2 linked regions of the Homo sapiens genome follow. Each later gene encodes a partner of the first gene's protein in a complex. Each region holds a gene or a part of one and is shown on either strand. Other genes may lie near its edges.

Evidence for each region.
Region 2: the proteins of DLC1 (region 1) and TNS2 are in contact, whole or in part, in an NMR structure (PDB 2LOZ), measured with the Homo sapiens proteins. Residues at the interface, in NP_001335010.1 of Homo sapiens: Glu811, Asp812, His813, Lys814, Pro815, Gly816, Thr817, Phe818, Pro819, Ala821, Leu822, Thr823, Asn824; in NP_736610.2 of Homo sapiens: Asp1268, Leu1269, Leu1270, Arg1271, Gln1272, Gly1273, Ala1274, Ala1275, Cys1276, Lys1317, Ser1319, Ala1320, Gln1321, Thr1324, Leu1387, Asp1388, Pro1389, Asp1390, Gln1391, Val1403, Leu1404, Leu1405, Gly1406.

Annotation. Positions count from the first base shown.
Region 1 is NC_000008.11:13,492,872-13,508,039, reverse strand, and holds part of DLC1 (rho GTPase-activating protein 7), read left to right. Parts: intron 1-7,843; 5' UTR 7,844-7,968; coding exon 7,969-8,991; intron 8,992-15,168. UniProt on the Homo sapiens protein: Functions as a GTPase-activating protein for the small GTPases RHOA, RHOB, RHOC and CDC42, terminating their downstream signaling.
Region 2 is NC_000012.12:53,040,958-53,053,219, reverse strand, and holds the start of TNS2 (tensin-2), read right to left. Parts: upstream 3,156-12,262; 5' UTR 3,035-3,155; coding exon 2,960-3,034; intron 1,366-2,959; coding exon 1,257-1,365; intron 766-1,256; coding exon 728-765; intron 1-727. UniProt on the Homo sapiens protein: Tyrosine-protein phosphatase which regulates cell motility, proliferation and muscle-response to insulin. Phosphatase activity is mediated by binding to phosphatidylinositol-3,4,5-triphosphate (PtdIns(3,4,5)P3) via the SH2 domain.

The sequences.
Region 1 (15,168 bases):
AAAGAGTTAACTTTCAAATTTGCCTGAATCACTGAGGGCTAAGAATAAAAAAAATGTTTTAAGTTGAGTAAAAACTCAGATATACCTAAAAATGGGTTAACAATAAAATAATATTTTTCAGCTGGGTACCTATTTCTTCATTTTTCTTCTAAAGACTAAACCTGATGGAACGTTGGATGTGTATTTTGGAAAAAGTGAAACACTACTTATTCCCCTTACTTGGCTCATTATAGATGACTTATTCTTTAATTTGGTAAAGTTTTTGATGCTTTCCAGACAGCCTAAAGACATGGAAGCTACTTCATATATAATATTTTAATCTCCATTAAGCAATTTGCCAATAAAACTTTTAACAGGGATTCATGTTTTCCACTAACATGTAATGAGGTATAACAAGTACATTCCAGCATTAAACAAAGTATGTAAAAGTAGAGGAATAATGATTTTGTGTGGGATTAAGACACATATTGCTACTAAAGAAAGGGAATCTGCATGAAATCATATGGAGGTAAATTCTTGCATCATGTTATTAAATGTTTATCCACCCACAGTCTAATTCTAGTCTTGTCTAATTTAGATTAGATAACATGAATATTTTAAAGGAAAAACACTAATTGTTTTTTACTGAAAGTTGGCTGTCTGGACTAGACTCATAGAAATGCTTTTTAGAAATGTGCTCTTACGGTTTTTGCTATTTGTTTGTGTATTTACATAAAGGAATTAAGAAACATAATATCTTCCCTGGGCTTTCTGGCTTCTAAGCATATGTCAAGTCAGTTTGGTCGTAAAGAGCATTCCTCTTCATTTATCACTGAGCTGTGTGCCAGTGGGAAGGCGCCCAAATGTACACAATTTAGTTTGCTAGGTAATTTGTTCTTTGACATTATCATTAAGAAAATGGGTTTCATTTTGGCTTCCACAAATGCTCTTTGTAATGAAGATTTACTTTGACATGAGTTGAAGAACTATATTAAGTTGTGCTCCTGTGATCATGTCTGTTTCCAGGTTGTTGATCGTCTTTTCTAGTTGCCTAATTCAATTCAGTAAGTGTTTTGGGGGCACATACGATGTACAAGTGTGAGTCCCCAAGAGTAGGCTAAGATACAGTAAGATTTCATATCATTACCAGATATTCAGGTTTCCAACATATGCATCTTACTAAGGTGACCCTCACCACGTAGCAACAAAATGTGCCAAATGTAGAGGTGTCTTCTTCTTCGTTCATATGCTGAGAGAGCATTTTAGAAACTGTTAAGTTGCGTTTAATTAACATGAGATTATTTCCCTTACATCTTCTCTTCCTTCCCACAGTGACTAAGCACATGCTATGCGATAGCTGTTTTATGTAAGTGTGTGTGTATATTTATATACATACATATGCACACATATATATTTGGGTGCATGTGTCTCTCTGTGTGTATATATATGTGTATATATATATATATATATATATATATACACACACACACACATGTGTGTGTGTGTGTGTGTGTGTCCATGTGTGTGTATGTGTATAAAGCAGTAGGTGGAGAACACGACCTAGAAATTTAACATGGGATGGCTAATCAGGATGAAAAACTCTAAGGGAAACCAGAAGTAATTCTAGCTATCTAAGGAAGAAGTAAGAAAAGAAAAGTAAAATGGCAGTACTGTTATGTCTTTATTTTCCCTTCCATTAAATATTCAGGATATTTAATAGAATATCCTAGAGTCAATCATGTGTTCATTTATTTATATCAATATATATGTGTACACACACACACACTCTCACAACCCAGAAGTCAATAGCGTGTTCATTTATATATATGTGTGTGTTTACATATACATATTTATGTGTGCATGTATTTGTATACATATGTGTATATATGTGTGTGTATACACACATATATATATCACATGTATTCTCAAAGGACTGCTTTATGTATACACACACATATATGTATCACATGTATTCTCAAAGGACTGCTTTATATATACACACACACATATATGTATCACATGTATTCTCAAAGGACAAAATAAGATACCTGCATTTGATGGGATGAATACAAAAGTTGCCATCTTTCCAAGTACTGTGAGTGAGGGATTCAGGAAAAGTGGGAATTTGAGTGAGAATTCCCCATTTATGTGCATGTACTAATGTAATGCTATTTATATGTTATTTTATGTATCTTAAACTTCTATTCAGATAACATTTTAGGAAAACTATGGCTTAGACAATTCCTAAGAATACCTGTTCCAAATTTCAGGAATTCCCCAGGAGAGTTAGGGAAGGAAAGGAAACTGAAAGAACTGACCTAAGAATCTCATAGAAATTGTGCTGACATTGGTGACATAAGATAAATATCCAAACTGGCACCTTTTCTTTGCTACGTACATGAGACTGGTGTTTGTGTAATTGCGAGGGGATGCTGTGGTGAGGGGGAATGGGGCAAAAAGAATGGTTTGGCCCCACCAGACATATTGCAGAAGAACTGCAGTCGTGTTTATGCATCAGCTTAACCTTAAAATTACTGCTGTAGAACATTTTAAAATTTAAATTATTTTTAGCATGAATTCTGAAATCCAGAGATAAGACTTTCTTAGCAAATGGCACACAATATCATAATACTTTAAATTATTTTTAGCTATGTCTTCTGATATTTAACTCTGTATTTCTAAACAATATGATTGTACTATGATTTTTTTTTCTATTTTAAACATTATCTGTTAACTTCCTGCTACAGAAAGTGACTATCTCCCTTAAATTATTTTCCCTGCTCTCCCTAATCTCACTCCTCACAGAATCCTATGCACTGAAAATCATTGCTTCATATGTTTTGGTTAATTTAATGTTTACTATTTGCATTATTTTGACTACATGAAAAAAATTAGCCACAGCTTATGGAGTATACTATAATTATATTTTCCTTCTTGTAAAACTATTTTTCCTGTGGTTGATAATTGATATCCCTAGTGTTCTCTATAACTATTAATAATTCTTCCATCCAAATTGCTTGACTTTATTATAAAATTCCTCTCAATATGTCATATATAATTTATTATTTCCCTTTTTTTAGAGACATCTCCCAGAGACAACTTTAGGAGTTATGTGAAATGATTGACCACTGGACTTGCTACACAACTTTTATCCTGAAAATTCTATACCTTCCTCACTTGTGCTGAATTCTTGGCTTCCTTTTGCCATGTCTTTCCCACTGTGTTTATTTTTTAATTTGGGGTTAGCTATCTCTCCAGTAGCTTTTGAGAAGAGGTTAAAAAAAAAGTAAGACTTTTCATATAATTTTAAGGCAGACATAATTTCCCATCCAAATTTTGAAGTCGTATTTGCCTGTCGTCTTCCCTGCACTGTTACTTTTGACAAATCTGATACCATTGATTCCCAGCTCCTAATATATCATCTCTTTTTCTCTTTCTCCGATTACATTTAGAACCATTTGCTTACCTCCTATGTTCTGAAAATTCACAACGACATTTCTTACGTGGTCTATTGTTCTTTCTGGTACCATTGCATCCTCATGAGTTCCCTTCAATCGGAAGACTTGAATCATTTGTTCTGGAACACATGCTAAAATTGTTTTCTTTGAAAAATTTCTTCTCTTAATGTTCTCTGAAGGCCGGGCGCGGTGGCTCACGCCTGTGATCCCAACAGTTTGGGAGGCCGAGGCAGGCGGATCACCTGAGGTCAGGAGTTTGAGATCAGCCTCACCAACATGAAGAAAACTGTCTCTAGGAAAAATAAAAAATTATCCTGGCATTGTGGCACATGCCTGTAATCCCAGCTACTCGGGAGGCTGAGGCAGGAGAATCACTTGAACCCAGGAGGCAGAGGTTGCAGTGAGCTGAGATGGCGCCATTGCACTCCAGCCTGGGCAACAAGAGTGAAACTCTGTCTTAAAAAAAAAAAAAAAAAAAAAATTCTCTGAAATGTTTCTGATAAATGTTACCCTCCAAGGTAACTAGTGAGTTTTCGAGTTGCAAGCAATTCTCTGGAATTTATTGTTACCTCTGCTATCTTTTCCAAAGAGGTAATTCTAGAATAGTAGAAATCTGAAGCCAGAAAGAAAGGAAGATTTCTTCTATCCAGTAGGAAACTGTACCTCAAATACCATTTGACTTGAACGTTCTGGAGGCAGAAAACTTACCACAGATAGATAGATATTTACCACAGATAGATATCTATGATAGAACTTTCTTTGTAACTATTATCCTTGTCTACAGGAGTTTCTCCCACAAAATTGGTAAGCTTCAGTAGCAAAGGTAGACTATACAATTCAGGTTTATATTCCTAATGTTTAGACAAGTTTCTGCCACTCACTGGGTACTAAATAAATGCTTGATGAATAGTGATTATGAACTAACTACTGTCAGTTCTACAGACTGAACACTTGATTTCAGCCAGTGGTACTTCATCTGCACCTTGCTCTCTCAGGCTGTAGAATCAGCAGTAGTAATTATTATCAAGCTCTTCTTTTCTAAGAACAATTGGCAGGCCAAATTATAAGGTGGTCTTCTATTTCAGAGACAAGTGCAAAAATAGAGCATGATCATTTGATATCAAATATAGATCAGTGATTTTCAAACTAGAATGTCTCCAATTGTTAAATACGGTAACATTTAATTTGTTTAATTTATTATTATTTTTTTTTGCTCTATCACCCAGGCAAGAGTGCAGTGGTGCGATCATGGCTCACTGCAGTCTTGACCTCCTGGGCTCAAGCAATCCTCCCACCTCAGCCTCCCAAGTTGCTGGGTCTACAGGTGCACGCCACCACTCCTGGCTAATTTTTGCATTTTTTGTAGAAACATCATCTCTCTATGTTACCCAGGCTGGTCTGAAACTCCTGGCTCAAGTGATCCGCACACCTCAGCCTCCCAAAGTGCTGGGATTACAGGCGTGAGCCATCATGCCCAGTAATTTTGTTCAACTTTAATGTATATATTGTATGCTATAAAACTCTTACGTTAAGGCATGGTAAGTGTTACAAAATTAACCCAAACAATGAATTCAAAATCATGCACGAATATCACAAATTTGGAAATTTCAAAAGTATTTTCCAGAATCATAGCATCATTAGAAGTACATACAGTCTCTTGTGATGTTAATGTCACGGTGCTTGAACACATGAATTTAAGAAGTGAAAAATCCCCATGGAAATTCACTTCATAAAACCAACATCCTGAAATGACCTACAATTTTCCAGATCCTCCATCCAAATCCTCAGCAACTGAGCTCATTCTGAATGAAACTGCATGAATAGGATTACAAAAGAAATGTAATAGAAATCTGAAAAATAAGTAGTCAGTTTTTTGAAATGTAATTTTAAATAAGGCGGCCCAGTGAGGAGGCTCACAGGAGAAGTCAGTCTTTTACAAAGATTTCTCTCTATTAGGGGATAGATTATAATCAATTCAGATGATTTAGGAAATGAGACCTATAAACTCAGATGTGATTGACAATAATCTAATGCTCCTATTTATTAATAATCTGGTCTTTAAATCATAGAGACAGATTTAACTATAAATCTTACAAATCAAAATTTAAATAGAAACTGGATAGGAGAGCTTGCAGACATTCATTTTTTTAAAAAAACTATCAGACCACATGACATGGAATGAATGAAGATGCCAAATGTAATAATGATCGTTATGAAAATTGAGAAATTGCATATCTTAAAAATAAAAGTGTACACTTACAGAAATGATTTGGAAATGTTGAAAGCACCTAGATTAGAAATGAAAGCAAGAAGAGTTAATGCTTTATTGGATTTATCTTATTTATAGTCTCTCTTTCCAGTTAGATTGTCTCAGAACTTGTTGAACTATCTTCCTTTGATTTGACAGAAATACTTACCTACTTGTCAAGGTTGAGTGACAGAAATTAATGAATATTATTGTCAAGTCTTAAAGGCAAAATTTTTGTGTAATTCTTTTTGCCTAAAAAGTTAATAAAACTATATTTCTTCTTAGTAAAAGAAATGAAACCAGAATTCAGGCTCAACTTAAAATATAAATGTGGCTTAGGAGTGACATCGTAATACCACTTGGTATTTCTTAAGTGAGCCGGCTCTTTCTACACTGGATAAAAATAAAGAGAGAAAAGTATCTAAAACCCTATTACCTCCCAAATGTGCCCATGAAAGCAGAAATTTTCTGGCTTGCATCTATGTGTTCTTTCCACTTTCCGTAGCCTCCCACGTTATAATGACTTATGCATGGAATTCAGAGATTTTATATTTTCTTTTGAGTGCAGAGTGAACGTCAACATGGAAAATGTGAAGGCTGACCACTTTTCAAGATGGCCACAGACCTCTGAGGGAACCAAATAGTATCCAGAAAGATACTTGGTCAGGCTGGGATACTAAAATTCTAGCACATGTCAATTTCGCCAGTTTTTACAGACTGGAAATATTTACCTCTCAGGCATGTGCTTAGTCAGAACAGCTCGAAATTTTTGTTGGGGAGTCAAGGCCCTTTACAATAGAATAGACTAAAGAGATCGAAAATCAGTATAGCAGTTAATCTTGTTTATAGCAGAAATCAGTAACTCAACCCATGTTGTGTGCTGACAGTTCTCGTGTGAAGTAAAAACTAAAAGTGTCTGCTCTGTGAATGGGATTTTTCTTTTACAGTCCAATAATATAGTTTCATTGTGGGGCAAAATTTGGGTTAGTCATTTTTATAACGTTGAGTTGACACTGGTATTATTTCTTTCCTTTAACTAAGGGTTTGAAGAATTCAAGGCAAAAATTTGGGTACCTGGTATGTGTTTGTATTCTAAGCTTGTCTTATGCATGATTTTCTTGTTTACTTAAATTTTATGGCCATATTCTAACAGAAATATGCAAACTAAACTTCTTATAAGCCAAACAGAATGAGACTGAAGTTTCTGAAGAATAGTCCCAATTGTCTTATAGTCATATCTTCCTTTATGTTCACTTGAATTCTTGCATAAAATATTTAGAGTTTACACATACTAAAGTTATGTGGGAAGAAGGGATGAAGGTAGAATCTCATAATTCCATGGAGACAATGAAGTTTGTTGACTATCTCAGTCTGGGCCTTAGAAGCAGGACCAAGTTTGAATCTCGGCTCACTTGCTACATGTATAACTTTAGTAAATTATTTAATTTCCCTTAAGCTTCAAAAATACCAGCTTGCAAGCTAGTAGTAGCAGTAGTAGGATGCATGTACAGATGTATCTGTCCTAATTGTAAATGGTATGTGTTATGCTTTCTAATCCATGCATTCTGTGTTAATATGTGCTAAACTGGATTATTCCATGTTTCTTAGTCATTCCCTGGAGTAACTACATACTGGTCGTTTGGGTTCGGTGTTAGCTCCTTCACACACTAATACATTACACATGCTGTCTCTATAGCTCAAGTTTTGCATGAACAGTTCCCTGGTGGCTTTCGCTGTGATTCAAACCAAACAGTGAATAGATTTATTTAACAACTTGTGTTCACAAAAGTAAATCAGGAAAACATGCAAGCCAGAACAATGTTTCTTCCAGTGATTTTTATTAAGTATTGCATTTCACATATTTTCTTAATGGAGTTTTAAATGTTCAGTATTTGTATCTTTATTCATTAATGGACCAATCCAACTGCCTTTAAATGCCTTTAAAAGTATTGCTGATGATTTTTATCAGAAATATTCAATGTTAAATTTCCTTCTAGTATTAGGCTTCTTAAAGAAATGACATTATTAAAGCTACTAAACAGAAGCTTTATAAAATCTCTTAACTTTGATAGCATAGATTAAGTTTTCTCTTTTCTAAGATATATTTTGACTTTAGAAACGTATCTGCGACTACATATTTTTTTGAATTTTTTAATAGGTGGTGAAATGACAGAACTCATTCGCTTCTTTGATTGGTGATTTTGAAATAATCTTTCATCAAGTTCCATCTCCTTTACCCTCATATGGAATATATCTCTCTGTCTGTTGTTAAACTACGATGACATGTCTGTAGCTATCAGAAAGAGAAGCTGGGAAGAACATGTGACCCACTGGATGGGACAGCCTTTTAATTCTGATGATCGTAACACAGCATGTCATCATGGACTAGTAGCTGACAGCTTGCAGGCAAGTATGGAAAAAGATGCAACTCTAAATGTGGACCGCAAAGAGAAGTGTGTTTCACTACCTGACTGCTGTCATGGATCAGAGCTGAGAGATTTTCCTGGGAGGCCAATGGGTCATCTTTCAAAGGATGTGGACGAAAATGACAGCCATGAAGGTGAAGATCAGTTTCTTTCTCTGGAAGCCAGCACAGAAACACTAGTGCATGTTTCTGATGAGGATAACAATGCTGATTTATGCCTTACAGATGATAAACAGGTTTTAAATACCCAAGGGCAGAAAACATCAGGCCAACATATGATCCAAGGAGCAGGCTCCTTAGAAAAGGCACTGCCCATCATACAAAGTAACCAAGTTTCTTCTAACTCCTGGGGAATAGCTGGTGAAACTGAATTAGCACTGGTAAAAGAAAGTGGGGAGAGAAAAGTTACTGACTCTATAAGTAAAAGCCTGGAGCTTTGCAATGAAATAAGCTTAAGTGAAATAAAAGATGCACCCAAAGTAAATGCAGTGGATACTTTGAACGTGAAAGATATTGCACCTGAGAAACAATTGCTTAACTCTGCTGTAATTGCTCAGCAACGAAGGAAACCTGACCCCCCTAAAGATGAAAATGAAAGAAGCACCTGCAATGTAGTACAAAATGAGTTCTTGGATACTCCTTGCACAAACAGAGGACTGCCATTATTAAAAACAGATTTTGGAAGCTGCCTTCTGCAGCCTCCTTCCTGCCCCAATGGAATGTCAGCTGAAAATGGCCTGGAGAAGAGTGGTTTTTCACAACATCAAAACAAAAGTCCACCAAAGGTCAAGGCAGAAGATGGCATGCAGTGTTTACAATTAAAGGAGACCCTGGCCACCCAGGAACCCACAGATAACCAAGTCAGACTTCGTAAGAGAAAGGTAAGACATATGCACAGATTCTCTGGCTTTTGAAATTTTGTAAATATCCTTGGATTTATCAGTTATCATTTTGCTTGGATTAAAAAGATATGAAGATGGTTCTTTTGCCCTGTTATGCAGATGTGTAATTCAACGACTACCCACTTGGTCAAACCATCAAAATATGTAAAAATTAAAGAATAATAATCTATCCGTTTCACTAATAATGTGTATAATGGTTTATGAATATTCTATTTCAGAATTGTGTTGAAAACAGGATTGGTATCCCTTTCTTTAGTTGGAATTAAATAGCCACTAGATAGCTCATAGACATGCAATTCAAGGCATTCTGTAGAGTGATTTCTAATTCTTATAAAGAAAGTCATGGTACTGTTATAGCATTTATTTGGGCATATTTCTTTTTCTCTTCAAAAAGACTATGTTTTCATAAGAAAAAAAGGTGGTATAAATCACATATTTAAAATAATCCCCTCACATATACAAAGGCTAAACTACTCCCACCCCCAAAATGTGCTGGTGCCATTTTAAGTGATACCCTGGCACACTCACCATCAATATATATATCATAGTCTCTGTTTCTTGCCACAACTGTTACTTAACTGTCAACCAGAAAAGGCTAATAACCACAATTATGTTTTATGCTACAGCCCCTTTGACTAATTCTAAAGATGCCATCCTCCCCTGCGAAGCTTTCAAGTGAGAGAAGCAAGGGCTAAGATGGTGCTACCTGAATTATGGTTTAGCAAGTGAACCCTTGACCAAAACCTGTCTTTTCTATAGAATTTCCCCACATTTTTCCAAAAACTGTAGTGAGTTATAGTCCTGATATAAGTCCAAGCACAGTTTCTTCTTCTATAAACCCCACATGGCCAATGGCATGGAAGAAACCCTGCATTTTTGACACTGGTATGCACTGATTAAAACATATATCCTTGCCCCTCTCTTGATACATTCATCCATAACTGCAATTCTCCTAAACACAAAAGTAATGTTCTTTGTTCTGTTCAACTGGGGCTATCTACCATGAGAGAGAAAAAAAAATCTACTACTTTCTTTGTAGTGAAGAAATCTGGTTTTCATAGACTGTGGTTTTGCTTACAAACTAGATCAGTAATGTGTCGTGAGTTAGTTTAAATGAAGTCAAAGACTTTACAGCAAAAATCAGTGTCCACAAGCTATATGCTAACAGAGCATTTTGTGCTTCTGGCAGACTCTCACTTCCTTACATAAGTTTTATGAAAATGTTAATGCTCCATAAAGTTGTTATGATTAAACTGTTTAGATCACTTTTTCAAAAACTTTCATATATCCTATCAAATCTGTTTGAGGGAATGCTGTAATGACATAAGACAGTATTAACTGACCTATGGCATAGCTCCCCTAAAATAAAACAAACTCCACCCAACTGCCAATGGAAACATTAAACATTCCAGAAACATATACTCACCACTTGAACATTTATATCAATACTAAGAATGCTGGAAAGAATTTACTCTTGGACATGTCACTATAGCATGGTTGCCTTTTGAGAGTTATAATTATATCTCATTTACAAGTTCTAACTTAAATTTTCTATTTTAAGCATTCTGTCATTCTAAAGTGTTGTGACATTGCCTGATGGAATATTTACTTTAACTCTACAACCCATTTAGGATGCCTTCTAATAAATAGATTAAATGAAAACTTTTAGGTTGGGAATTTATCCTAGAAAACTACAATTATGTGAGAAGCCCTTAGAACTAAAACGTGTAAGAATTTTTGTTTTATGCATTATTGGATGAGTGTTAAAATACCATTGAATTGGCAATTCGCCATTTTTAGAAATTTACCAGAAGAAACAATAGAGCATATTCATAGAAAGATATGTACAGAGGTGTTCATCACTATATTGCATGTTACTGAAAGAAAAATGAAACAGTCTACATTTGCATCAATAAAGAATTTGTTTAGGCCAGGCGCGGTGTCTCATGCCTGTAATCCCAGCACTTTGGGAGGCCGAGGCAGGCGTATCACGAGGTCAGGAGATCGAGACCATCCCGGCTAACATGGTGAAACCCTGTCTCTACTAAAAATACAAAAAATTAGCCAGGCATGGTGGCAGGCGCCTATAGTCCCAGCTACTCGGGAGGCTGAGGCAGGAGAATGGCATGAACCCGGGAGGCGGAGCTTGCAGTGAGCCGAGATTGCACCACTGCACTCCAGCCTGGGTGACACAGCGAAACTCCATCTCAAAAAAAAAAAAAAAAAAAAAAAAAAAAAAAAGGAAATGGTCTAAGAATTTGTTAATTATTTATCTATTGTATGGAATGCTGTGCTTTCATTAAAAACATGGAGTCAGATCCAAGCACACTAACTTTTAAAGAGGCTCATAATATAGTACTGAAAAACAACAGTAGCAGACCAATATGTATAGACAGCCAAATCTTAATGTCAAAATGTGTGTGTGTAGGTATGTGTGTGTGTGTGTGTGTATATATATATGAATGTAGATAGTAATATAAACCTCTCTGTATGGCTGAATAATATGTGAAATCCTGGCTAAATAGGCACAAAATTGTTAACAGCAATTACATTGGATGAGTGGAATTAAAAGAACAGGAGGGGTTTTCACTTTTTACCCCATATAATCTTTATAAAAGATCACAGAATTATGTATGAAATGCATACACTGAACAGAAACACAAAAATAAAATAATATTTAGTATATAAGCTGAGGCATTTTCTGCATGGCACAAAACAACCTTTTATCTGCATTATTATTATGATTCTGCTTTTATAAATTATGAACAAATATTTATAAAGTTTTTCACACTATTAACAAGAGTTCTAATCTAGTTGATGTCTAATACTAGTGCAACTGGTTTAGAAGAGATAAGTTTTTTGGAGGCACACATGTGCCACATTTTCATGTCTGTAGGGAATGCAGTGGCAAATGGTCAAGTGGTAGAAAGAGTTTGCTAATTGTCTATATATTTAAAACTGTTTGTCAGCCATAGTAATACCCGTAAGATAAGAACTTGGAAAAGTGAAATCAATTAAGGCTAATATCATTTTAGTTATGGAATTGTAATCAGCTCATTATCTGATAATCATGTGATTGAATCAAATCCTTCAATAAATTTGTGCACATTGATTTCTTTTGTCAAGATCACATCAAAGTTCTAAGACCTGAAGAAAAAAATAAAAGAGCTTATAAGGGGGATCTTCAAAATGTATTGAAATAGTGCTCTAGAGATATCATTGTACTTTTAATAAAAATTATCCTTCCTTGAAGCCCATAAATCTTAGCAGGCATTCATCGTTTTGCAAAGCTTAGTTTTCTTAGTTTCCGATGATATTTCAGACTACCAGGGTTTAGTCACACGTATATTTATTAGGAGTCTCAATTGGAGGGGATTACATTTGTAGTATATGTACAAGTATATACCTTTATTTTTAGTATATATGTAGTATATAGGGGATCACAAATATTGACCTTTTAAGCCAATAATTCCTCTAAATAGGATGAAATATATAATGAAATTGAAGCCACTGATATCAAAGGAAAACCAAACAAATTGTGAGCAAATGTTAGTGAATGTGCCATAAGGTTGGGTGACATATGACCAGCACTCAGGGCCTGGCTGGTCTCTGGGGTGAGGCGGCTGGTTAAAAGCAATTCTGAGACAAATTCCAAAGTAGTCTGGAGGAGGGAGACAGTCTAAGAAGTGGTCTCTTTAAACCAGATGAGATGTGAAGATGGAAAACATTTAGGGAAAGACTTGAGGTTAGACATTTTTTCTTAAAGAAGTGGGTTACTAATTAGAGAGAGTACAAAATTCAGTCTTCTGTAAAGACTACTTAAATAGTTCTGAATTTTTTGAATAACCATAATAATTATATAAATGTCTGAACATATGTTTATTTGCTCACATAAGACAAGAAATAATCCATATTACAAAGCAAAATAAACTCCAAAAAAGATGCAAAGATAATCTGAACTTTAAGAAGACACCTAATTCTACATTCCAACAAAAACCTTATATTCCAAAAACAAATTAAATGAATGTTAGGGTCTTAGTTTATCCCTCAGGTTTGTGTGTGTTTGTTTATTTCTTTGAGATGGAGTCTTGCTTCCTTACCCAGGCTGGAGTGCAGGGGTGTGATCTCCGCCCATTGCAACTTCCGCCTCCTGGGTTCAAACAATTCTCCTGCCTCAGCCTCCTTAGTAGCTGAGATTACAGGAGTGCACCCTCACATCTGGCTAATTTTTATATTTTTAGTAGACATGGGGTTTCGCCATGTTGGCCAGCCTGGTCTCAAACTCCTGACCTCAAGTGATCCACCTGCCTCAGCCTCCCAAAGTGTTGGGATTACAGGTGTGAGCCACTGTGCCCGGCCTATATCTCAGTATTAATTAGGCTATAGATTTGGCTGCTATCTCAGAAAGCATAATAGTGGTTCAAATGACATATTTCTCTCACACGCATAAAATAGGGATAAGAAGTTCTGAACTAATATATAGGCTCTATGCCTTCAGAATCCACACCCCTTTTATCTACCCTCTCTGCTCTCGAGTCCTCCTCTACATTCAAGTCAGTGGGAAGGCAAAAGGCTACAGGGGTGATCGCACCCTGTGTACAGGCAGTACCCAGGTCGTCGGCTTCACTGCAATTTCATGGGCTAGAATTTAGTTGCATGGGCATATCTAGCAATAAAGGAACTGACCATTGGAATCTGCATTCTGGACAAGCATATGTTTGCTAAAAGTTCTATTATCAAAGACGTAAGGGACAATTTATATTGAGAGATAACTCATAACATAAATATTGAGGAATACACTCTAACATAAATATATTCCAATATATCATGACACGTTGTGAAAGAAATAACCAAGCTGCATATATGTTCTGTGGTATTCTGTATAAACACTAGGTGCTTTAATTTCATGCAACAGAATACCTTTCCTCATTATGAAACTATTTGATATATTAAGTGATGTTTATCAGATGCTATATCATTTCTCATAGAAAAACTGTCCAGGAATAAAACATTATATTGTACATACTGTACTTTACATCTCTGGAAAACATAATACATTGTCTATGACTGATAAAAATCAAATATTTTCTCCTTATTCTATATTTAAAATATGCAAACATTTGGTAAAAGGACTCCCATACCTGAAATGATACTCTCTTTCCTTTCTATCCCCTGAATGCTGATGGGGGAGACTTGTAACAAGGGGAGGATAACATTGACCAATGGGTGACATAAAGAAGATAGTAAATTGTGCAGAAAATGGAATGAACCAAAGTAGGAGGCTGACTGGGACAATATAAAAGGAAAGGAACTATTTAAAGAAAATAAGTTCTAGAAAATAAGTTTACAATGTAAAGAGGTATAGAATATATTGTAATTATATTTAACAGTATAACAAGTATTGTAACTATAGTTAACAATAATACATAGTTTCAAATAGCTAGAAGAAGGATATTGAACGTTCTCAGCACATATGTTCTCAGACATGATCAATGTTTGGAACGATGGCTCTTCTAATTACCCAGATCTGATCACTAAACATTGTATGTATCAAAACATCATCTATGTGCCCCATAAGATTATAAACAATGTTTATGTATCAACTGAAAAATTTTTAATTAAAAAGATAAATTAAAACAAGAAATGAAAACCTAAAAGATAGTTAAGCCAAGCCTCCAGACTAATGTAGCAAGATATGTGGAATGAAAGCAAGGACAATGAAGGAATTAGCTTGTGAATAAGCTTAGTATCAGCCGACAAGGAGGGAAGGAATGTAAAGCAGGGTAGGTATATATAGCTCTGCAGATAAATTCATAATAACAGTATTATTTTACACTAAGCTTGCACTGGTTTTAATGACACAGGCCTGTTGAGAAGATTGTGCTTCCCAAATCCCCTTGTTTTGACACTTGTTTCCCTAGGCTAAAGACTGGAGCTGGCAATGAAACTTATTTCCAAGTGGTTAGTTGGTGTGTAAATTCATAACAAGTTCCTGTGACAGTTCTTATCCAACATATTCTTAGTGAGTTTTGTGTCCCAGGTAAAGCCAATAGCTTTGTAAATAGCTTATTTTGTGCTTCATTGGGCCACTGAAAACTATCAAATAATTTCATGCCATTTAACCTGGTTTTTGCCTTATAAATAACCAGAAAGCCA
Region 2 (12,262 bases), on another chromosome or scaffold:
ACTTGTTGCTCTTGGCGCTCAGCCCCCAGCCCACACAGACCCCCATTCATCCAGCTGTAGGGCAGGAGTTATATATAGAGCCAAGCAGGCAGGCCATGGCCAGGGATGGACACTGGCTTCTTTCACCGGGAGACCCCGCCCCTGGGCACACAGCTCCCCCAAGCCAGCTCCAGGGCCCTGGGATCCTCCTCCCCCTGTCCTGAAGGAAGAGGACCAGGGGACCTCTTCAGAGACAGGGCTGTCTCAGGTCCCCAGTGGACAGTGGGTGCTATCCACAGCTTATACCTGGAAAGGCCCAGTTTTTCCAGGGCCCAGGACAAGACCCGCCCAGGCATTTTGAGGACCCTTCCCCAGAGGGAAGGCACAGCCCATCCGGCTGCCCAGTCTCTGAAATCCTGCTCCCCCACTCCCCACCCACCCCACCCTTCCTCCTCCTCATTCTCCTCCTCTTCCCCACCCCCATCCTCTCGCCAGCTGCAGTCTGGGCACAGCACCAAGACAAACGCTGTCTTGCTGTCCACCCGCCTGGGCTGGCCAGCCCTCCAGAAGGCGGAGTAGGGTGGTTCTTAAAGGGCCCAGTACAGCACCCCTCCCACCCAGGAGGGGTTCCCCAGTGGTGAGAGGGGTGGAGGTGGAGGGTTGATGCCAGTGTGGTTGCAGAAGCCTGTTTGGGAGGAGGAAGGGACTCCAGACCCTCTCCCCCTATCAGGTAGAATCAGATACCCACCTTTGCTTCACATTTTCTGTGCGTCGCCACCTTGCAGACTAGGGAAGGTAAGGGGAGGAGAGGGGTTAGCAGGGGCCTGTGGGACAGTGGAAGGAATGGCCTTCCCTCATCTCCCAGACCCTGGAACCAGACCCTGGGACTTCCAAGATCCCACCTGGACTGGGCTGGCTGGGGCAGAGGAGCAGGGCTAGGTTTTGAGGGAAGAGTGTGGCAGTGGGGTACTACTGCCCAGGCCAGGGGTAACGTTCCAGGGTGGGTGGAGGTGAGGAGGAAGAGAGGGAAGGAAGACTACCGTCACAAGTCAGGATGGGAAGGTGATGGAGAGTACTGGCTCTCCTGGGTTATGGGAGGTGTCTGTCATGGGGAGCCAGGGCCATCTGAAGGGGGAGGCAGCTGCTTCTTAGCTGCCATTGTGCCTAATCCAGGAGCAGCATATTACATTTGAGATTGTGTGAGCTGGCCTGCTGGAGTTGTGCAACACAGTGGTACTGGGTGGAGGGTCTCAGAGTCACAGGACAGAGAGCCTCACCTCTGCACGAAACGCCTGTCCCATCGATGGTCACCTTACATACTGCACAGACTGGAGGTTTCTTCCGGAAAACCTTCTCCCGGAAGCTATGAGGCTCAGCTTTCCTAGGCTGAAGGTGGAGGGACAAACAGAGGTGTGAGTTCCCAGTGGGCCCATCTCCATCTCCGGGACTGGGCAGGAGCCTTGCCTTAGCACTGCACTGGTTTTCTCCGTCCAGATCAAGCCCTCAAACTTGTAGGACGCACTTGGCCACAGCTGCTTCAGGGCGGTCATGGGGCCTGTCCTCAACTGTGCATGGAATCTGACCCCTTGCGTCACCTTTGCTGGGTCAGCTCCTCCCCAGGGGATCACTTGGGCCCCTCACATGGCCCTGGTGTGTGATGCCCTTGTGGAAAAGCCTCCATGCTCAGGCTTTCCCCCTGGTGTGGTAAGGGTACTCCCTGACTCTTCCCATCTTGTCCTCCCCGCATGGAGACCTGTGTGCAGAGTGAGCAGGGAGGTTCCAAACATATGTGTTGTATGTCAGTCCTGCAGCACCAGACTGAGCCGGCAGGAGTGGCCTCAGCCAGTCCTGCTCCTTTAGCTCCTGCTGTCCCCACGCTCCAGGCAGCTGACATGCCCTCCTCCCCCACGGTCAGAACAACATGTTTACTCATTGTGCACTGAGGCAGCAGACAGCAATTGTGTAATGGGGGTGGTCATGCTGGAGGGAAACAGATAGAAGCCTGTCACTGGGGAGAGATGTTTAGCTGGCTTTGGATGCTGTGAGTTCTCCCCCGACCCCCTGCACCCTGGCACTTGGGATTCACGCATTGAATGAGAAAGGAGTGGACCAGATTCCCTGTTCAGCCCCTCCTGACCCAGAGATGCAGTGAGGCAGGAGCCTGGGATGCCCCCTTATGGCCCAGGCCTATCTCAGTCCCTTCCCCTCCCACTGTGGGTTCTCTCCTCCCATCCTCTGTCTGGGGACAGCTTGTCTCCTTGCCATCTCTCTGTTTTACCCATATTCCCCCTCCTCTGGAGTTCAGACTCCTGCTGTCCTCCTCCCGGGGACCCATCACAGTAGTATCTCAGGTTGTCCTGAGCTGCTGCTTTTGGGGCAAGGCTGGGAAGTTGGGAAAGGGAGTGATGGGGATGTGGGCAGCACCTCTGGTTTCTTGACTGTCCCTGCAACTCTTCTGGGCTGGATCAACTTTGTGGGACCCACTAAGACACTTGGGAGCATGTTGGCATTAGCAGCAGATATGGATGTTGTCAGTGGAAAGCAAACCTCCAGTTCCAAAGCACTCCTGACTCCCTCTCCTCTCTCTTTTTCCACCCTGCCACCCCATTTCCCTCAAACTTCCCTGGGCCAGGGAAGGGGCCTGATGATCTCTGAGCCTGCTGGAGGATACCTGGATAGCGCATGGCAAAGTCCTGCAGTGAGGCACCTGGGGCTTATGTTGGGGGGCCAGGACCTCCTGGGGTTGGCCCAGGCTAGAGCAGGGAAGGTGAGAGGAGCCAAAACAGACAGCAGGACCTACTCTAACCCAAACATCCCCTCACACTACAGCCCTGGCCACTCCGGAGGGGATGCTGGGCCAGGGAAGAAGGCTGAGGAAGCTGAAATTGGGAAGAAGGCCTGGCCTGATTCCTGGTCCCCTCCCCCACTGCCCGCACCTCCACCCCTGCCCCTCTTTTGCCCAGCTGGTGGGCACTCCTACCCTGCTTGCGGCCCGGCTGCTGTCCCTCCTCCCCAGGGCTCTGAGCAGCCTCTCCACAGGGCCGCTGGACTTCATGGTGTTCGGCTGGCTGGGGTGCTGGCCCCAGGGCCTGAACAATGCTGGGGCCTGGCCCGGGGCTTCCTGGAAGCGGCCTGGCGGAGGCAGCCGCTTCCCCTGGGCGGAGGGTAGGCTGTCTGGCTGGTGTGAGGAGAAGCCCGGCCCTGGAAGTGGAGGGAAGTGCAGGCGGGAAGGGGGCAGGTCGCTGCTCCAGGAAGTGGAGGGGGGAGGATGTGGGGGAGGCCAGGAGATCAGATTCCCAGGATCTACCCTGCTGGGAGTGTCAGCCTGTGATCTTTTGCTCCCCCTACTCCCCCAACTCTGGAGTTGTCCCACACCTGGGACACCACACTCTCCAGGGATCTGCAGGGATCCATGGTCTTGAGATTCTGCCCCCACCCCCGGTGGGGCCGGGTGAGAATTCTGGTCTCGGGGCAGGGCTAAAGGGCAAGTGGGGAACAGTGTGTCCCAGCCAGGCTCCAGCCTGAACTCTCAAGCTCTCGAGGGACTTCCGCTGGGGAGGGAGTGGAGCTGGGAACTACTACCAGCAGGCAGGCCCAGGATCCCGAGTGTGTCCTGAGAGTCAGGTAAAAATGGGACTGGGGGCCCCCTTCCTGTCTCAGTTTCACTCGTTATGAAGTAGGAAAAGGAAAGCATGCACCGCCCACCTTTACCCTCAATACACCTTGCAAGGCCAAGTTCCAGCCACAAGACTGCTTTGCTCAGGTTTGGGGAGTAATCCATTCTCCTGCCACAGCCTAAGGCATATGAGGCCCTTCTCCTGAAAGCCCCCAGGTTTCTGCTCCTGACACAGTGCCCCCCACTCACCCATTCCCTGGCTTTGTTTCAGACATGATCTCACAGATCCCTAGCCCTCTTTCCAGCCCTGCAACTTGGGCTCTCTACCCAAGGGCTGCACCCTCCCCCCGCGGCAACCCCGAAGCCTGAGTACTACCTTCATGGCTCTCCTGGGTCTGCTCTCCTTCCTCAGCAGCTGTCCCAGGGCCTGAGGACTGGACAGGAGGTCCCCCCTCCCAACACATACTCCACCCCCATCCATGGGCCTCCGGCCTCCCTCCTGGGAACATGGCCAACTTCCCGTCCTGGGAGTCAAGGGAGGGAGGTGGATGGGGCCTTGAAAAAGGGGGAGTAATCTTCCTAAAAGCTAAGGGGTTAATGGCCTGGGAGTCTTCAGCCCCAAGCTGTGGACAGCAGCCCCTGGGACAGGCTATAGCTGTCACTTGAAAGAATGTGCAAATGTGCCCCTCTCATTTGCATGGTATTTATTGAATGTCCCAGTACTCAGGCAACTCCCCCAGCCCTGGCTTCTCCCACGGAGTCCCTTCTACTTGCTTCCTGCTCCTTCATATCCACCAGGATGGGTTCCCTGGGATGAAGAATCCTGCATTCTCTGGGGTGAGGCCTGCTGTGGGTGCCCACTTGAGACCCTTGCGAGGACCTGACTGGATTGGGCCTAGCCTGACACCTCTCCCTGGAAGCTCCAATTTTCCAGGCCAAGAAATGTGTCCCCAGGATATCCTGGCCAGAAGGTGGCATCTGTGTGGCAGGCCTGGGCTCCCTGCCTGTAACTGGAGAGGAGCACGGGCTCTGTGACCCACCCCCATCCTGCCAGCCTGGCTGTGTCCCAGCACATTCCAGGCCCCCGGCCAGTGTGGGCAACCGGGCCTGGCCTTGTCGAGCCCCCAGCCCTGCTTGGGGGAGATGGGGCAGTGTGACAAGGTGGGCAGTGGGGGTGGCTTTTTTCTGTCCAGTCCCAGCTTCTGCTCCTATGGCACATGGCCCTGACCAGGACTCCTCTACATGCTTCACTCTCCTGCTGCCTCCATAGGGGCTGAAAGTCCCCTCACCTGGAACAGGTCCCCAGACATCCTCTCACCTTCACTGGTCTCACACTCCCCACCCAGACCCAGCAAGGAGGTGCCCAAGCAGTGAGCTCGGTGAGGGGTGGGGTGGTCAGGATCCACTGTGGCTGTGAGTCCCTCCCATCCTGTGGCACTCGCACCTCGGAAGGGAAGCAGGGATGGGATCCCTATGAGCCAGTCCCGAGGGGAAAAGTAGCTCACTTGAGGAGGGCTGGGAAGGCATCACTAGACCCTCTTGGACCCTCACCCTCCTCCCGCCTGTAACATTCCAGAGCCTGTCAACCTCTCCCCCAGCCGGGCCCCCTCTCTCTCCGAAGTCTTGGGTTTGTTTGGAGAAACCCCTCCACCCACACCCCCCTTTCTGGAAATAGCTGTGGTTGGAAGGGAGGCTGGGAGCCCGGCCGCCGCGGAGGAGGGGTAAGGCCCAGGGAAGGAGCGAGGGAGGGCGGCGGCTCTGGGGGTGTTCCCAGAAGGGTCTGGAGGATGGGGGCAGACTGGAGGGGGCCGCAGAGCGGGGCTGGCGAGTCGAATCAGCCTCATCTGTGCCCGCTTACGGCCTCTGTCCCACATGTGAAGCAGGAAAGGAAAACGTTCGCCCGCACCCTGCCAGGCCGGGGCCCGAGCGCCGCTGCCAGCTGCTGCCGGGTCCCGGGCCTGCGTGTGTGGCACGGCGTGCGGCCCCGTGCGCCCCGGGTGCTGGAAGGCGTGGCGGCCTGATCGAGTAGGGCCGCGGCCGCGCCCCGCCCCCTAGTCACTGTCCCGGCCTCCCGCTGCTCCCAGCTCTCCGCGGCCAGCCAGAGCCCCCGGCCCCAGCCCTGGGCCGCGCCCCGCGCCCCGCGCCCTCTCGACCTCCGGCGGCCCCGCGCCCCCTGGCGCCCGCCCCTGGCACTGCCCGCGCGGCCGTGACGCAGAGACCGCCGCCCGCCCAGCGCGGCGCGGCCACTCACCTGCGGGGGGCGCCCGGCCGGGCGGGGGCGCGGCGGGGCGGGGCAGCAGCAGGGGGAGCCGCCGGGCCAGCCCATCCCGCCCGTGCCCGCGCCGAGCGGACGCGGAGGAGGAGGCGGTGGCAGTGGCGGGAGCGGGCGGCCGGGCTCGGCTGGGCTCCCTCCCGCCCCCGCCGCGCCCCGCGCCCGCGCCCGCGCCCGTGGCAGCCCGCTCCTCCTCCTCCTCCCTCCCGGCTCCAATCCCCACGTTCCGCCAGCTCCCCACCCCTCGGCCTCCTCTCCTCCCCACCTTCTCCCGCGAACCCACACTCACAAAGAGCCGAGGGGAGAGAGGGTGCGCAGACGGCCAGCCGGGCCGCGCCAGGGACATACTGGAGACAGGAAGTGGCTGAGAGGGGGAGAGAGTTGGAGAGAGACGGCCGCGGAGGACACGGGGACGGGAAAGTCTGAGAGACGGGGAGAGCCTGACCCGGCGGGACACAGGCAGAAAGAAACACGCGAGCCAGACAGACGCAGAAGAAACGGTGGGCGTAGGTCTAGAAGGGACTAGGAACAAGGGGACAGGGAACTGCCGCGCAGCGTCAGCCTCTTACCCTCCCCACAGGAGTGTGCCTGGGCTTGGGCCTGACCTGAGAGGACCACCCGTGGCTTAGCCTGGTGGTGCTAGCGTCCCCTACCCAGGCGGGCGCCTGAATCAGGTGAAGACACCTGGTGTTACTTTTGGCCCAAGTCATTGGACACCCTTCCCTGGTCCTCTGCCCCACAGGAGACTTCTCCTGGGCTAGTATTCTCAAAGGATTCACAGCTGGGGACCTTTCCGTCAGGCTCAAGCCCCCATCTCCACCCGCAAGCAGCTCCAGCCATCCCATCCACTGCCCTGCTTTATTCATTGAGACGGGAGTCTGTCTCTGTCGCCCAGGCTGGAGTGCAGTGGCGCCATCTCGGCTCACTGCAACCTCTGCCTCCCAGGCTCAAGCGATCCTCCCACCTCAGCCTCCCGAGTAGCTGGGACTACAAGATGGGCGCCGCCACGCCCAGCTAATTTTTTGTAGAGATGGGTTTTCGCCATGTTGCCCAGGCTGGTCTCCAATTCTTGAGCTCAAGCGATTTCCCCTTCTTGGCCTCCCAAAGTGCTGGGATTACAGACGTGAGCCACCGTGCCCGGCCCATTGCCCTATTTTAAAGAGCTGGACCGTCATTCCCAGTTCGCAGGAGACCTCTGAGAAGGTCTTCCTTACATTTAACTTGAGTCCAGCCTTTCCAAATGGAGATGGAAGTTCTTTCTATGGTCTGACCTCATTCCCTTCTTTTGCAGTGCCTGGTACTGGATAGGAACTTCATGGAATGGAGCTAATGGGCCGTAGGGCAGGTTTGAGTCGTGCCACCCTGGAGCAGAAGGTGGAGGGTAGGGATAAGGTAGGGGACATCTTCCTAGAAGTTCTGAACCTGTTGCCATTCCTACATTCCCCCAACGTCCTTTAGCAGTGAGCACTTCCTGAAACTTTCTCCCTCCTTCACCCTCCCTGCTGGATTTTCCATGATGAAAAGGGGCGGGGGGAAGGAAGGTTGGAATTCTGAGAACCCAGTGCCCAGGGCTCAATGCCCAGTGCTTGCCCAAAGTAGCCAGTACCACTGGCTCTAAGGCCTTCTTTCCCTCCCCGTCTCATCTCAACTGGGTCCCTTGTCTTTGGCAAAGGCTGAGAAGTCTGGTTCTCATTTCCAGGGGGTGGAGCACCTGATTCCAATCTTGCCACAGGGAAGAAGAGTCTGTGAAGAAGTGCGTGATGACTGTGTGTCCCCCCCCACCCAGAAATTGGCATTTGGGAGGGGTGGATATGGTTGGGACTGGGGAGCCTTGATCTTACTGCTCTTGGTTGAGTTGGTGTCCAATAGACAGTTTCAGAGGTTAGAGCAGTGGGAGTCACTGGGGACTGGGGACAGGAGAGGTGGGGGTGGGGGAAGCCAGGCGGGAATGAGTAGGGAGGCACTGGGAGGAGGGGAGAGGCAAGAGTTAGGGGAATACCGAGGAAAGTGGCAGGGATTGGAGGCTCCTGGAGAAAGGGCAAGGCTGAAGGTTGTCCCATGTATTTTGGCCAGATTTGATTATGTAATCGAGAATCATGAGATAATTAAGTGTGTTCATGTCTCTGGAGCCTTCAACCAGCTCTTTTAACATCTTGCTCTTCCCAGCATTCCTTAGGGTCTTTGGCTGGGCTCTGGGATGGATGCCATGGGAGTACCTTTACTTAAGCTCTAAAGTTACCAATGGAGAGACTGGGACTCAAAGAGGAACTTGATTGGACCCCAGAGAGGTGAGGGGTAAGGGCTAGAACCTCACACATGCTGGTTTTGCTGCTGCCTGGCAGGCCCATGGGAAGAACTTTAGAGGTTCCAAGGAATTGGAAAAGGGTCACAAGATGGGTGGCCAAACTCCCAGCTCAGGCTTGATTCCTACTCTCAATGTGGGGATAGTGGAGAAGGGGGCTGCAGGAAGGGCTGAGAAAAGCTGAGAATGAGAAGTTATACAGGAGGTAGCTTGGTGGGAGTGAAACAAAAATGAGTGGTTCATGGGCCAGCCAGGCATCCTGATTTCCAGCTCACAGCAGCAGGAGCTTCAGAGAGGAAGAAGGAGAGGAGGAGAAAGCCAGGTTGATGTTAGTAAAGGTCAAACAATTTCAGGAGCACCTCTGACCTCCCTCCACACAGGTTTTCTTACCTTGACTATGCAGAGGGTGGTCCATCTTGGCACTGAAGATGGAACCCCCTCTTCCATGGTCTGGGGTGACCCCATGCCTGTAACTGAATGTGCTCAGATCCTTGGGGTGCGGGGACTGTAGGGGGAGGATTTGAAGGTGTGGGACTGTCCTGGCTGGAGACCACTGGGTCAGGAGAACTCCAGTAGAGGGTTTGGGTGCTGGGAACCAGGAAGAGTGGGGGAAGGGGCAGAGCCAACTCCAGAGGCGGATCTCCTGGCTGAGGACAGAGGGTGTATTGTCCAAGCTGGAGGTTGCTGTAGCTGGGCGGGGAGCAGCTCAGCTCGTCTCTTCCAAATTTCTTTTGGGGGAGGGTAAGGGAAGGCAAGCCCCCCTTTACTTGTGGCCCTGGGGGCTACAATGGTTGCTGAGAAACAAGGCTTATTTGACAAATAATGCTTCCCAGGAGCAGATGTGTAGCTCTCTCACTTCCTGAGAAACCAGATGCTGTGAGCTCGCTTAGCACTTGAGGCGACGCCCTCAGCACGAACTGGGACCCTAGTGCCTTGGGATCCGGAGTATAGTGCTTGATTCTATTGAGAAGAAACGAGGCTAATGTGGACTGGGAGACACACGGGACCTAATCAGCCTCAAGTTAGCCCTTTTGAAGTAGGTTGCTGCACCTGCACTTTCCCCCTACTCGTCCACTAGTTCAAGATTTACAAGACGTTGACAATGAGGGCTGACCAGTCCTGGGTCCACTCCTGCAGCTGGGGGGCTTCTCGGTGGACCCACACTTTTTTTTTGAGACAGGGTCTTGCTCTGTTGCCCAGGCTGGAGTGTAGTGGTGTGATCACAGCTCACTGCAGCCTTGACCTCCTGGGTTCAAGTGATCCTTCCTCCCAAGTAGCTGCAACTATGGGCATACACCACCATACCTGGATAATTTTTCTATTTTTTTGTAGAGACAGGGTCTTGCCATGTTGCCCTGACTAGTCTCAAACTTCTAGGCTCAAGCGATTCTCCTGCCTCATCCTCCCAAAGTGCTGGGATTACAGGTGTGAGCAACCATTGAGACAAGAGTCTCGCTCTGTCACCCAGGCCGGAGTGCAGTGGTGCGATCCCGGTCCACTGCAACCTCCACTTCCCGGGTTCAAGCGATTCTTCTGCCTCAGCCTCCTGAGTAGCTGGGACTACAGGTGTACACCACCATGCCTAGCTAATTTTTGTATTTTTAGTAGAGACGGGGTTTCACCCTATTAGCCAGGCTGGTCTAGAACTCCTGACCACATGATGTGCCCGCCTTGGCCTCCCAAAGTGCTGGGATTACAGCTGTGAGCCATGGCACCTGGCCACACACGTCTTTTTAAATTTAAATGAGGATGTGGCCATATTACAGCCCAGGTTTTCTCTGACTTTAGAGTACCTTTTGGGACATAGGGCCTTCCTCTCTACCCTTTCTGTACACAGCCATCATAAACCTCTTTCAACAAGCCTTTCCTATTTTTATGTTCCTTCTTTCCATCATTTACCTAGACCTCATTATTGCACAGCTGAGAGTGGCTTGAAACAAAGGCTTGGAGAATGTGAGTGAAACTGATTCCTGTGGTGGAGAGGCAGTGAAAAAGCATTACCTTGTAGGTTTCCAGGCAGCCTGGACAATAGGGGCACCTAAACCCACATTGAAAAGCCTTCACATCATCACAGCTGAGTCTCATAGCCTTCAACTTTACCAGTTTTGGAGAACAGAGATAAATGCACTGGCCAGAAACTAGAAGAGCAGCTGCTCCAATTGGCTGGGAAATCATTTAACTGGCTCCTCATCTTGGCTCTTAAATCCCCAAAATTGTTGACTGAGGTTTCCCGGGCTCCTTTCTATGCTCCACCTCCTTGTGACCTTAAGGATTCTCTGCCACTGTCCTAACCCCTTTCCCGCCTTGCAACAATGACCAGTCTGTCCCTAGCTGTTTGGAAAATTCCCACTGAGTCTGTGAGCCTCTGTTCTGGTAACCTCGACCAGCCTGTCACCAGTATCTCTGGTCCACCAGTGCGGTGTAACTCAAGGGAGCAGCATCTCTCCAGATTGCTGAAGTGAGGGAGGGAGATTATGAGGGAACTGCCCCAAGGACACAAGGATTCATTCTTAGAGTTCCCACATCTTGATTAAAATAAACAGTACAGGAAATAGACTGCAGGCACATCCAGGTGATTAAAAAATTTAACACCAGGCAAAAAAAAAAAAAAAAAAAAAAAAAAAAGCCAGAGGGGAGCTAGGATGCAAACTCTATTATTGGGCCTCAATAAACACTGAAATAGATTCCCTTGTAACCCCACCCTCTAATCTTGGACAATATGGTATCCAATACTGAATGAAAACTTCAGAGATGGTAGGAGGAGGAGGAGCAGGTGGTCAATGACTACAGTAAAAACCACTGGGAGTGCAGAGTATTTGTCAAAGAACTTCAGCATTACAATGAACTTTAAAGATCAGATTTATTTGGAGAAAACAAAAAACCCACAACCCAAAGGATGGGATTTTACATCAAGACATCTCCCAGGTAATAAGTCTACAGATTACAAATCATTTTCATAGAAGATATTTTTGTACAAATTTTACATGTATTCAGGAGCGGGACATTAATCAATCCCTGTTTCTATTTTAATAGGGGGGACAAGGTAGGGGAGAGGGAAAAACAGTTTTGGATATAACTATTTGGAAGGAGAGTAGACATGAAGAGGGCAAACCCTAGCTTTTCATTATCTACAATCAATAGTTTGTTTTTCTTTTTTAAAAAAGAAAGAAAAACCCTTTCAATCTTCAATACTCTTTAAAAGCCCACTTCTTAGCTACTGGCCAATCCACACCAATTATTTAAATTCACTTGGTACACACCTTTGTCCACTGGGTAAATTATATTCATTATGCCCACTGCTGCAGCACGCATAAACCAACACCCCTGCATGGCTGAACAGGGCCTAATCTAGGACTGATGGGAGAAGGGCTTGCAAACCAAGATCAAGGTGTTTCTCCGCTAATACTGTCTACCAAGCTGATCCCTACAAAAATGCATATAAAAGCAGGCAAGTTTAGCTACTGTGTTGCAAGAGAAACCAGGACCTTGTTAAATAGTTCTCTCCATTACCATTTATTCTCTCAAGGGAAGCTTAAAAAAACAACAACAAAACAACACATTGGTCTGGCCACCTCATGAATCCAACAAGCATTAGTGTGGCATTTCAGTGGAGAAGGAAACTTGGGGGGAAAAATCCCATCAAGGTTGTAAGAAAGGCTCCCAATTTAACTGTCCCTGTCCCTATTTATCCATCATCCAAGACCATCCATTATTCTAGAGCACTCTGATCAATAAAAGGGGTCCAAGCATCAGGAGCAGGCAAGGAGAACCAAAAGACATCAAGAAACCGATTTGCTTGAGAAAAGCAGCGATTCTTCCTTTCAGAGTTCTCCATGGCTGAGAAAATGCCCAAGACATCATGTATGTGACTTAGATACTGCTTTTTGGGAGGTTAAGAGTAGCATGAAGAACTTAAGATGATGATAAGAGTCTAAATTTTTAGTTTCAAGGTTTCAATAGAATGTGGATATATTCAAAACTTTCAAAAAGGACAGTGTTTAGAAAGGGTAAAACTAGGACACAGAAAACACTGGGAATTACCACGACCCCCAAGTGCTTCCGGCTCCAGGAAATAACCATTCATGTGTTTGCT